2 separate regions of the Homo sapiens genome follow, and region 1 is linked to region 2. Evidence: fine-mapped expression QTL. Tissue or cell type: whole blood. Region 2 holds a variant in brackets; the other region holds the start of a gene. All regions are shown on one strand. Distances are from middle to middle.

Region 1 (2,693 bases), 75 kb after region 2:
ATAAGTATATTTAGATACTATGTATAGTATATATACTATACATAAGTATATTTAGATACTATATATACTATACGTAAGTATATTTAGATACTATATATAGTATATATACTATACATAAGTATATTTAGATATATATACTATAAATAAGTATATTTAGATACTATATATAGTATACATTAAGTATATTTAGATACTATATATAGTATATATACTATACATAAGTATATTTAGATACTATATATACTATACATAAGTATATTTAGATACTATATATACTATACATAAGTATATTTAGATACTATATATACTATACATAAGTATAGATACTATATATAGTATATATAGTATATATACTATACATAGTATATTTATGTACTATACATATAGTATATTTATATACTATATGTAAGTATATATGTAAGTATATTTATGTACTATATATAAGTATATATACCTAAGTATATTTAGGTACTATATATAAGTATGTATACCTAAGTATATTTCTGTACTATATATAAGTATATATACCTAAGTATATTTCTGTACTATATATAAGTATATATACGTAAGTATATTTCTGTACTATATATAAGTATATATACGTAAGTATATTTATGTACTATATATAAGTATACAGAAGTATATTTATGTACTATATATAAGTATATATACTATACATAAGTATATTTATGTACTATATATAAAGTATATAAGTACATTTTATATATATTTTTATATATAGTTATATATAATATATGAATAGTTATATATATATAAATCACAGTACATTTATTGATGGGCAGGGTCCGTAGTTTACTCACTTTCATTTTCCCAAAGCCATAAACACCTGAACTGTTTCCTGCTGTTTCTGTCCTGGTCACAGCCTTCCAGCGTAGGAGCCAGGCCACCTTCCTTTTTGCCACCTGTCCCAGCACCGCGACTGCGGGCAGCACAGGACCTGGGCGCTGCCCCATCACTTAGAGTGACTACCTGGGCCTGGGGATGCACCAAGTTTCTAGGAGCTTTTCGGAGTTGGGGACATAAAAAGGGGCAATTATTCCACAGAAGCCGCCACAGAGGTTAAGTGAGGTCGCGTGAGCGAACCGCTACTCCAATGCCGGAACTGTTCCCGGTCGCCCAGGGCAGCTCCGGATAACGCAGCAGGCAGGGGTCACCCAGAGGCTGCCTCCACCCTAGGCGCCGACCGCGCACGGCGCTCGCGCCCGCTCCTGAGGAGGGAAGGGGCCTCCCTGGAAACCCACAGCGCCCGCTGAACCCGGAGGGTGCGGTGAGGAAAATAACGGTCTCACCTTGAGTCGGAGGACGTCCGGCTAGCTCTGTGAACGGTGTTACCGCACTCGTCTCTTCCGGAGGTAGAGGGGCTACTCGCAACAGGAAGTTCCGCCCTTAAAAACTCCATTCCTGAGGGGGCGTGGTTGCTTTGCTGGGCCCCGCCCCGAGCTGCGCCCTGCGAGCCTCTGCCAGGCCGGGCCGGGTCCTGACCCGCGCTGGAGCATGGGATACTGCCTCTTCATTCTAGCTTCTGGTTCTTTTCTCCTGCTTGTCTTTTCATCTCTCAGTTTTTAAACATTACTTCTCTCTTTACTTTGCCTTTTTCTTCTTTCGTCCTCCATTCATTCACGGTTTCCCATTTAGCTTGCTTTCTTCTTTCTCCCATTTATTCTATAGTACTATTTTGACAAAACCCAGATTGCAGATATGATTCCGATTATGCAGCTTTTAGGTGCTAACCTAAAGCTGGTAAACCTATACTAGATTAAAAAAAAATAAACTGATAACCAGAACCAACTGCCCAATTCTTGATAATTTACTTACATACTATTTATTGAGGACTTACTATGCTTCAAGCAATTGTGTGGGGTTTTATTGTTTTGTTTTTTTGAGACGGAATTTCACTTTTGTCGCCCGGGCTGAAGTGCAATGGCGCGATCTCGGCTCACTGCAACGTCCGCCTCTTGGATTCAAGCGATTCTCATGCCTCAGCCTCCTGAGTAGCTGGGATTACAGACGCCTGCCACAACGCCCGGCTAATTTTTGTATCTTGTAGAGACGGGGTTTCACCATGTTGCTCAGGCTGGTCTCAAACTCCTGGACTCAAGTGATCCGCCTACCTCGGCCTCCCAAAGATTACAGGCATGAGCCACCACGCCTGGCCGAAATGTGTTTTTATATGCATTATTTTCCTTAAAGTTTTAACAGTTTCTTGAAAAAGGTATGATTAGCTTTGTCAGACAGATGAGGAAACTGAGGCTCAGAGTAGTTAAGTGATTTGTCCTCAGGTCACACAGCAAGAGCAGAGAGTGAAACACACTGAGTTCAAAGTTTTGGGGTTCAGAAAATGATACCCCACAATGAAGGCCTCAGAAGCAGCCTTAGAAGGAAAAATTTTCCTCTGACTCCTTTTGGTCTCCTGTCTCTGGTCCCACATTCTTCCCCAGACTAGTCATAGAAGCTAGAATTCCTCTTTCCCAAATCAGGTCCCAGAAATCAGGACCCCTTTTTTATAAAGCCAGCCATAAAACATAAAAATACTACTCTAGGCCAGGCAAGGTGGCTCACGCCTGTAATCCCACCACTTTGGGAGGCCAAGGCAGGCGGATCACGAGGTCAGGAGATCGAGACCGTCCTGGCTAACACGGTGAAGCCCCGTTTCTATTAAAAACACAAAAAAA
Region 2 (2,693 bases):
ATTTGTAAAGCACCAAAAGAGTGCCTGCCATATAAAAGATACATAATAAAAAGTAGCTATGTTTATGACAAAATTATTCTCAAAAGATGATGCCAGAAAATATATACCAGGTACATTTCATCTAATTAAATTTTGAAAAATTAAAGGAAATTGAGCCACAATAATTGTTGTCTTAAAAATATTTGTTCCTAGTCAGGAACCTATTAGACTGTTTCTGCTTGTTTAAAGCATTCATTCAGATTATGACTCCCTTTAGTTTCATTGTTTTGTATAAGTAACTCTGAAATCACATTGCTAAACTAAAGAAGCAGCTGAATGCAAAAGATCTTAAATCAATGTCAGAACTTCTCCTTGGTAATATTTCCCTGGTTACACTTCTGAAAAAATCCTGAAGTAAAAATTAGTTTTTACTTTATCCAACAGCAAAATTAAAGGTTAAAATTGTAAACCTCTTGCAGCTCTTTTATGACTAACATAACCATTTTATAGCCCATGGTTACAGTCCTTGCTTCAAGACAGCACACTGTAGCAATAAGTTTATTGCCCTTCCCTCAAGGACATCATTCTGGGAGGTTCTGTAGCTATTTGACAGAGGCTCTCTCTCTTTTGCTTTACTCATTACTATATAGAACAAAGATGTATAGTATAAAATTAGTTTGTACATGGCCAAACTATATTTTTAAGGTCCCGACTCCTAAGAGAAGTCCAATATTGGAGAAAGATAAATGATCTGGGAGCCAGGATTCTAGTCATATTTCCACCCAGCTGTTCGATCTAAGGCAACCACATCACCTCTCTGAGCCTCAGTCGACTCACCTACAAAAAAAGGCTGGATTATTAGATGATCTTTGATCAGGTTTAAGACTCTTATAACTCAGTGATGATATTTTCAAAAGGAAAAAAGGTAGAAACAGTAGGCAGTAAAATATCTGTTATTCAAAACTTAACAGATTTTGTTGAATAACAAAATTTATGATTTTTAATGCAAACAACTACAATAAAGGTCAGAAATTCTATTTAATATAGCATAACTATATTAAAGACTTCAAAACTCTAGCTTTTCTTGAAAATGTAAACATAAAAGTAAGGATAGATATTTGCTTTTAATTTCTTCATTTATGAAACTGATTACAGAAGGACTCTGAGGTTTAGAAAGGAATAGTGGCATGCTGATTTTGAAACTCCCCATTACCCACCTGAAAAATAAAATTAAATAAAATCAAAAAGGAGGACAAATAAAACACACAAGACCTATTCCTTCAGCATTTCTAGGAATCGGAAAATACAAATCTCAAACTACCTGTAAGCAGAAGAAAGAGCAAACAAACTAATTCTAACACAGCATTCCTAGCCTGTGGATACACGGAGTGGAGGAGAAGAGGCAGAAAAGACTTTGTGAGGGAGAGCAGGGAGGAGCCAAGGACCCACAGGGAACACAGAAAAAACCACCCTCAGAAACGAGTATAAGTGAGACAATAAATGCAAAGACACTGAGCACAGATCAGCCCTTGGTAATTCACAGTCCAGCTACCTCGGGGAAACTGTGATTTTGGAGGAGAATCAGATAAGACAGAAGAGGTGGTACCTCTTGGAGACCAAGTATTCAA[A/G]GAAAAGTTGGGACTAAGATTGAAAAATTAAGGATCCTGCAGAAATCAATGATAAGCAAGACAAGCCAACCCTGCCTACCACAACCACTCAAAAGATATCATAAAGGAAACTACACAGAAGGGCAGAACTGACAAAATACAGAGCTCTGAACCAAGGAGCCCTGATAACAAAATGAATCAAAATAGAAAAAAGTAGAGCACATCCCCACAAGCCTGCAAAACATCAGACATTGCTAATAAAAATGGGTTTCTTTTTGTTTGAAGTCTCTCCAGAAAACCAACATTGTGAACAGTGAGAACACATGGACAAGGGAGGGGAATATCACACACTGGGGCCTGTCAGGGAGTGGGGGATAAGGGGAGGGAGAGCATTAGGACAAACACCTAATGCATGCGGGGCTTAAAACCTAGATGACAGGTGCAGGAAATCACCATGGCACATGTATACCTATGTTAACAAACCTGAACATTCAGCAAATGTATCCCGTAACTTAAATTTTTTTTAAATTGCTGCTGTAACACAACAAAAGAAAATAACAACATTCTGTCTTTTAAAATAAAAAACAATAATGAAGCAGAAGAAAACTGAAACATCAATACAATCTGAGTTAAATGGCCTCAAATACTTGTGGTTGTGAATATGAAAAAAAATTGTTAAATCTGAAATAGAGACTGAAAGCAGAAATGAAACAAAATTTTTTTAAAAAAAAACAGGATAAGTGAACTCAGGAAAGAAATGGGGACAAAATGAAGAATAAATTACAAGGTGCCCAAAAGGGCACAGATGCAAAAGAAAACTTAAAGAAAATCAGGAAAAGCAATAAAAGAAAAAGAGACTGAGAGAAAGCAGCTGAAATGGAAGACACAAGGAGATGGAATATTCATATTGGTGTCTCTGAAGAAGAAAATGATAACCGAAGTGCAATAATATTTAAAATTATATCTCAAGGAAATTTTCCATAAGTAAAGAAGATATGTATCTACATATTAAATAGAAAATTTATGCAGAATAAGCAATTCTAAGATATTCTTGTAAAACTGTTAGTTAAGACTTTAGGATAATGGTAATGAAATGTATGAATTTGT

What was found. PIP is the estimated chance that this variant, and not a neighbour inherited with it, causes the effect. A credible set is the group of variants that fine-mapping cannot tell apart.
Region 1: IMPA1 starts here. The variant in region 2 is the best candidate, but not a certain one, in a credible set for the expression of IMPA1 in whole blood (INTERVAL, PIP 0.82).

Annotation. Positions count from the first base shown.
Region 1 is chr8:81,684,942-81,687,634 of GRCh38, forward strand. It overlaps IMPA1 (inositol monophosphatase 1), which reads right to left and starts at 1,384. Exons shown (of 9, transcript NM_005536.4): 1 at 1,311-1,384. RefSeq lists an enhancer at 1,130-1,630.
Region 2 is chr8:81,609,484-81,612,176 of GRCh38, forward strand. It overlaps the pseudogene IMPA1P1. Among named protein-coding and RNA genes, the nearest start is that of IMPA1, 75 kb to the right of the region's middle. The variant A/G (reference allele first, on the strand shown) is at 1,608.